Linked DNA regions of Homo sapiens. The protein of the gene in region 1 purifies or fractionates together with the protein of each later gene. This does not show direct contact. Each region holds a gene or a part of one and is shown on either strand. Other genes may lie near its edges. The genes, in order: ZNF215 and HECTD1.

Region 1 (3,909 bases):
CACCATTGCTGGTACCCAGGCAAACAGGGTCTGGAGTGGACCTCTAGCAAACTCCAACAGACCTGCAGCTGAGGGTCCTGTCTGTTAGAAGGAAAACTAACAAACAGAAAGGACATCCACACCAAAAACCCATCTGTACATCACCATCATCAAAGACTAAAAGTAGATAAAACCACCAAGATGGGGAAAAAACAGAGCAGAAAAACTGGAAACTCTAAAGAGCAGAGTGCCTCTCCTCCTCCAAAGGAACGCAGTTCCTCACAAGCAACGGAACAAAGCCGGACGGAGAATGACTTTGACGAGTTGAGAGAAGAAGGCTTCAGATGATCAAACTACTTCAAGCTACAGGAGGAAATTCAAACCAAAGGCAAAGAAGGTGAAAACTTTGAAAAAATTTTAGACAAATGTATAACTAGAATAACCAATACAGAGAAGTGCTTAGAGTAGCTGATGGAGCTGAAAACCAAGGCTCGAGAACTATGTGAAGAATGCAGAAGCCTCAGGAGCTGATGCGATCAACTGGAAGAAAGGGTATCAGTGATGGAAGATGAAATGAATGAAATGAAGCAAGAAAGGAGGTTTAGAGAAAAAAGAATAAAAAGAAACAAACAAAGCCTCCAAGAAATATGGGACTATGTGAAGAGACCAAATCTACGTCTGATTGGTGTATCTGAAAGTGACGGGGAAAATGGAACCAAGTTAGAAAACACTCTGCAAGACATTTTCCAGGAGAACTTTCCCAATCTAGCAAGGCAGGCCAACATTCAGATTCAGGAAATACAGAGAATGCCACAAACATACTCCTTGAGAAGAGCAACTCCAAGACATACAATTGTCAGATTCACCAAAGTTGAAATGAAGGAAAAAATGTTAAGGGCAGCCAGAGAGAAAGGTCGGGTTACCCACAAAGGGAAGCCCATCAGACTAACAGCGGATCTCTTGGCAGAAACTCTACAAGCCAGAAGAGAGTGGGGGCCAATATTCAACATTCTTAAACAAAAGAATTTTCAAACCAGAATTTCATATCCAGCCAAACTAAGCTTCATACGTGAAGGAGAAATAAAATACTTCACAGACAAGCAAATGCTGAGAGATTTTGTCACCACCAGGCCTGCCCTAAAAGAGCTCCTGAAGGAAGCACTAAACATGGAAAGGAACAACCGGTACCAGCCACTGCAAAATCATGCCAAATTGTAAAGACCATCGAGGCTACGAAGAAACTGCATCAACTAACCAGCAAAATAACCAGCTAACATCATAATGATAGGATCAAACTCACACATAACAATATTAACTTTACATGTAAATGGACTAAATGCTCCAATTAAAAGACACGGACTGGCAAATTGGATAAAGAGTCAAGACCCATCAGTGTGCTGTATTCAGGAAACCCATCTCATGTGCAGAGACACACATAGGCTCAAAATAAAAGGATGGAGGAAGATCTACCGAGCAAATGGAAAACAAAAAAAGGTAGGGGTTGCAATCCTAGTCTCTGATAAAACAGACTTTAAACCAACAAAGATCAAAAGAGACAAAGAAGGCCATTACATAATGGTAAAAGGATCAATTCAACAAGAAGAGCTAACTATCCTAAATATATATGCACCCAATACAGGAGCACCCAGATTCATAAAGCAAGTCCTGAGTGACCTACAAAGAGACTTAGACTCCCACACAATAATAATGGGAGACTTCAACACCCTACTGTCAACATTAGATAGATCAACAAGACAGAAAATTAACAAGGATACCCAGGAATTGAACTCAGCTCTGCACCAAGCAGACCTAATAGACATCTACAGAACTCTCCAGCCCAAATCAACAGAATGTACATTTTTTTCAGCACCACACCACACCTATTCCAAAACTGACCACATACTTGGAAGTAAAGCTCTCCTCAGCAAATGTAAAAGAATAGAAATTATAACAAACTGTCCCTCAGACCACAGTGCAATCAAACTAGAACTCAGGGTTAAGAAACTCACTCAAAACCACTCAACTACATGGAAACTAAACAACCTGCTCCTGAATGACTACTGGGTGCATAACGAAATGAAGGCAGAAATAAAGATGTTCTTTGAAACCAGTGAGAACAAAGACACAACATACCAGAATCTCTGGGACACATTCAAAGCAGTGTGTAGAGGGAAATTTATAGCACTAAATGCCCACAAGAGAAAGCAGGAAAGATCCAAAATTGACACCCTAACATCACAATTAAAAGAACTAGAAAAGCAAGAGCAAATGCATTCAAAAGCTAGCAGAAGGCAAGAAATAACTAAAATCAGAGCAGAACTGAAGGAAATAGAGACACAAAAAACCCTTCAAAAAATTAATGAATCCAGGAGCTGGTTTTTTGAAAGGATCAACAAAATTGATAGATCACTAGCAAGACTAATACAGAAGAAAACAGAGAAGACTCTGATAGACTCAATAAAAAATGATAAAGGAGATATCACCACCGATCCCACAGAAATACAAACTACCATCAGAGAATACTACAAACACCTCTATGCAAATAAACTAGAAAATCTAGAAGAAATGGATAAATTCCTCGACACATACACCCTCCCAAGACTAAACAAGGAAGAAGCTGAATCTCTGAACAGACCAATAACAGGCTCTGAAATTATGGCAACAATCAATAGCTTACCAACCAAAAAGAGTCCAGGACCAGATGGATTCACAGCCGAATTCTACCAGAGGTACAAGGAGGAACTGGTACCATTCCTTCTGAAACTATTCCAATCAATAGAAAAAGAGGGAATCCTCCCTAACTCATTTTATGAGGCCAGCATCATCCTGATACCAAAGCCTGGCAGAGACACAACAAAAAAAGAGAATTTTAGACCAATATCCTTGATGAACATTGATGCAAAAATCCTCAATAAAATACTGGCAAAGCAAATCCAGCAGCACATGAAAAAGCTTATCCACCATGATCAAGTGGGCTTCATCCCTGGTATGCAAGGCTGGTTCAATATACGCAAATCAATAAATGTAATCCAGCATATAAACAGAACCAAAGACAAAAACCACATGATTATCTCAATAGATGCAGAAAAGGCCTTGGACAAAATTCAACAACCCTTCATGCTAAAAACTCTCAATAAATTAGGTATTGATGGGACGTATCTCAAAATAATAAGAGCTATTTATGACAAACCCACAGCCAATATCATACTGAATGGACAAAAACTGGAAGCATTGCCTTTGAAAATTGGCACAAGACAGGGATGCCCTCTCTCACCACTCCTATTCAACATAGTGTTGGAAGTTCTGGCCAGGGCAATCAGGCAGGAGAAGGAAATAAAGGGTATTCAATTAGGAAAAGAGGAAGTCAAATTGTCCCTGTTTGCAGATGACATGATTGTATATCTAGAAAACCCCATCGTCTCAGCCCAAAATCTCCTTAAGCTGATAAGCAACTTCAGCAAAGTCTCAGGATACAAAATCAATGTACAAAAATCACAAGCATTCTTATACACCAATAACAGACAAACAGAGAACCAAATCATGAGTGAACTCCCATTCACAATTGCTTCAAAGAGAATAAAATACCTAGGAATCCACTTTACAAGGGACGTGAAGGACCTCTTCAAGGAGAACTACAAACCACTGCTCAATGAAATTAAAGAGGATACAAACAAATGGAAGAACATTCCATGCTCATGGGTAGGAAGAATCAATATCGTGAAAATGGCCATACTGCCCAAGGTAATTTATAGATTCAATGCCATCCCCATCAAGCTACCAATGACTTTCTTCACAGAATTGGAAAAAACTACTTTAAAGTTCATATGGAACCAAAAAAGAGCCCCATCGCCAAGTCAATCCTAAGCCAAAAGAACAAAGCTGGAGGCATCACGCTACCTGACTTCAAACTATACTACAAGGCTACAGTAA
Region 2 (3,909 bases), on another chromosome or scaffold:
GAAACCCCATCTCCACTAAAAAATACAAAAAATTAGCCAGGCGTGGTGGTGGGTGCCAGTACCTGTAGTCCCAGCTACTCGGGAGGCTGAGGCAGCAGAATGGCATGAACCCGGGATGCAGAGCTTGCAGTGAGCCGAGATTATGCCACTGCACTCCAGCCTGGGCAACAGAACGAGACTCCGTCTCAAAAAAAAAAAAAAAAAAACAACAAAAAACTTGGTAAAGGTATAATCCCTTTTTCTAACTTTTCTATTTTTTGTTAATAGCATCACCATTTTCCTAGCTTCCAAGTCCTCTTTCTACGTTAAGGGTTTTTGTTTTTTGTTTTGGCAGGGTCTTGCTCTATTGCCCAGGCTGTAGTGCAGTGGCATGATCATGGCTCACTGCAGCTTCGACCTCGAGGGCTCAGGTGATCCTCCTGCCTTTGACTCCTGAGTAGCTGGGACTACAGGTGTGCACCACCACACCCAGCTAATTTTAAAAATTATTTGTAGAGACAGGGTCTCCCTATGTTGCCTAGGCTGGTCTCCTACTCCTGGGCTCAAGTGATCCCCCTGCCTCTGCCTCCCAAAGTGCTGGGATTACGGGTGTGAGCCATGGAGCCTGGACGGAAATTTTTAAGTTAATCATTTAAATTCTGATATATCTTCTTTCAAAAATTATTTTTAGATTTCTTCCCCATTCATATTGCCAATAACTAGACTTTTCTTTCCTCCATTATTGCAGCATTTCGACAACCTCCAGCTAGTCTCGTCTAGATAGATCCTTTTAGTCGTTCTAGACACTTTCCATAATTAGTCTTCTTAAGACTAGTTTTTCCAGTGTTGTAGTCCAGAACTTGCTACTTAGCTCAGCCTAATTTCTGCATTCCTCATTCAAGGCCTTCCCCACTTTAGCTCCAAATTTCTCTCTCTGTTGCTTACTGTTGGTTCTTTGCTGGGGGCACAGGTGACCTTTCCTATGTCTAGGAACATATCAGGCTTTATGTTCTTCCCTTTCCTTTCAGTGTCTACATTGTACCCATTCTTCAAGGTCCAGAGGGAATGCCACTTCCTTCTTGAAGTTTCCTGGCAGCTCCAATTCACACTCATGACATCTAAATAATTATCCTCATGTGTTGTACTTGGGACAAAATAGTTGAATCCTCTTTTTCCTCTTGTTTCGTTAACAGGATACCTAAACGGACCATTACCTGCGACAACGGGACATGCGCGGATAGCTATCTGAAGTACAAATTTGTCATTTCCAAAATACTGGTTCTTTTTCTAAAGAAGTAGTAAAAAAGAAAGAAAAAAAAGAACCAGTATTTTGGAAATGACAAATTTGCTTAGTCGCCCAGGCTGGAGTGAGGTGGCATTATCAAAGCTCACTGCAGCCTCAATTTCTTGGGCTCGAGGGATCATCCCATCTCAACCGCTCCAGTAGCTGGGACCATAGGTGTGCGTCACCGCATCTGGGTAATTATTTTTTAAATTTTAATTTTTTTGCAGAGACCAGGTCTATGTTGCTCAGGCTGGTCTCGAACTCCGGGCCTCAAGAGAGTAAAATCATAAAGTGCTGGGATTACAGGAAACGCAGCGGACCCAAATTCTGTTCTTTACTCATACCTAGCAGCTCCTCTGGTTGCCTGAGGGACCATGTCTCAAACACTATCATGTCGTATTAATTTTTCTTTTTGTTTAAAAGCTGAAAGTGAGAGTACAGTAGGACGTCTCCGGGCTCCAACTACGTCCTATAAGCATGCATCCTTTATTCTGAATGCGTGTGAAATAAAGTTTGAAAAGAATAACCACAGACATACTTGTGACCACAAGCCACAAGAAACGTAGTCAAAAGTGCACTCTCAGTGCTGCTGCCGACCGGGCACGGCGCTGGGCCTGCATTTGCGCTTTCCTGGAGCCTCAGTGTCTCATCTGTACAACGTTGATAATCGTCGGCAGCACCTCTTTCCCAGGGTTGCTCTGAAGGGTTTTCTTTGGGGTGAACCGCCAGGCGGTCGGCCTCCCAGGAGCGGGGGGAGACGCCTTCCTTACGCGACGCACTTCCGTGCGCGAGGAGGGAAGATCGTGGCTGAGTGCGGGTGGCCTGGGCGGAAGGCTCAGCGGGGACAGGTTGGGCCGCAGCTTTGCTGTGCTGTGCCGTGCGACGCCCTCCGCAGGAGCGCGCAAAGTGTTAGCCACGGCGCCAAGCAAGCTGGACGTGCGTGCATGAGCGCGCTCGGACTGACAGGGAAGCGAAAAGGGGGCCAGGGCGCACCATAGAAAAGCCGCGGCAGAAACGTACGACACAGCCCGAGGCGGCGGGGGCGAGAGCTCCGGGGCAGGGACGGCGACGCGGCGTACCCGGTTTGGCGCCCCTGCGCGGCGGTCGGCCGTCCCGCAGCGCCCCAGGTGGCCGCCGGCGGGGTCGCCGCCGGGGGAGTGGATTTGCTCCGCCTCCGCCGGGCTCGGCTGCCCTCGGCAGCTTCCCCGCCTGGCTCTCCCTCGACCCTCCTCCCCTCCCCCTCCCGGTTCGCGATGGACTGGGCCTCCCCGCCGCGCCGCCGCCGCCGTCGCCCGCAGCACCGCGCGGGCCTCTGAGTTGCAGGGCCTGAGGAGCCGCGTGCTGGGGACTGGACGTCCGCTGGCTGCTGCCGCACGCGAGAACCTCTCGCTTCCCTGTCACCAGGTCCTCGCGGAGGAAGGGGAGGGACGAGGCGCGGCTTTTCCTGTGCCGCCTGCCCGGTTCGACCTGCGCGGCCTGCGGCTTCTTGGGAACTCTAGGGCCGCGGCCGGGCCTGGCTCTGCCGGCGGCCTGTTGGGAGCTGGATCGGAGCGGTTTGGAACGACAAGCCCGAGTAAGAGCCTGCGGGAAGGGGAGGCGGGAGCGCCTCGGACCGTCGGAAGGGCCCTGCGTGGGGGCGCGGATCCCGGACGCCCGGCGAGTGGCGGAAAGCGAGACCCCGGCGCCGAGTGAGGTCGGCCAGGCTGCTGCCGACTTCCCCGCTGGCCCCTTTGTTCCCCTCCCGGGGCCCTGCCGGCGGCGGGGCCCGGTTGCCCGCGCCAGAGCCTCAGGCCGGCTCCTTTTGCCCTTGAGAAGGGTTCGCTGCCAGGCCTTCGAGTTCCGGGCGCAGCTCCCGGGAGAGCCGGCGCCCTGCCTGGCCCGGCGGCCTCCTCTCGGGCACGAAGGCTTGCTGCTGCTTCTCCAGAACTTCCCTTCCTCGTAGACACAGGTAGTTAACTTAGCGGGGTTTGGTGCTGGGGAACCACAGCGCGGGGGCCAGCGCCTCTCAGCGCCCGGCTCGGCCGGGCCCCGGGTGTGGGGTCAACCCCGCTGGTCGCCGCCGTTGGGTGCCCACCGCGCCCCGCCGCCGGCTTCCCACACTTGCGGCTGCGTTACGTGGGACCCAAAGCTGTCCTCCAGTCAGGGCGCTTACGGGGCGCTTTTGTAATGACTTACCTGTTGGGGTTGCTTCTCGGTTTTGTTTTTGTTTTTTTAACCAACTGCCCTATCTTGTGAAGCTGGGGAAAGAGGGCCCTAGGTTGGCCTACATTCGTTCGGATCCGTAACCTGCTGGTCCATTGCATTTACTTTTAGCCTTTCCTTTTTTAATTTTTTTATTTTTTTAACTTTTAAGAATAGTTGCCAAGACTGCCAAAATTCCTAACCAACTCTTTATTCATAGATAAATCTTGTATATAATTGTCGTTTGTATTTGGATATCTTTAAAATAGAAGTAAATTGAGAAGTCAGCAGAATATGTGAAATTGGAGGTAATTTTGAAGGAGAAACAATTTGGAGGGGGATTGGATCAAGGTGTTTAGAGTTTCCTCAAAATACTGAATCTAACCCTTATCTGAAGATCAGTTTTGGGTAGAGAAGGAGGGGGATGAAGTTTGCTGGAAAAAACAGAACCTTTAGTTAGGTGT

The links.
Region 2: the proteins of ZNF215 (region 1) and HECTD1 purify together in Homo sapiens (co-immunoprecipitation; 2 studies listed by BioGRID and IntAct, with this or other methods). This does not show direct contact.

What each region holds. Positions count from the first base shown.
Region 1 is NC_000011.10:6,950,127-6,954,035, reverse strand, and holds part of ZNF215 (zinc finger protein 215), read right to left. Parts: intron 1-3,909. UniProt on the Homo sapiens protein: May be involved in transcriptional regulation.
Region 2 is NC_000014.9:31,206,319-31,210,227, reverse strand, and holds the start of HECTD1 (E3 ubiquitin-protein ligase HECTD1), read left to right. Parts: upstream 1-2,434; 5' UTR 2,435-3,212; intron 3,213-3,909. UniProt on the Homo sapiens protein: E3 ubiquitin-protein ligase which accepts ubiquitin from an E2 ubiquitin-conjugating enzyme in the form of a thioester and then directly transfers the ubiquitin to targeted substrates.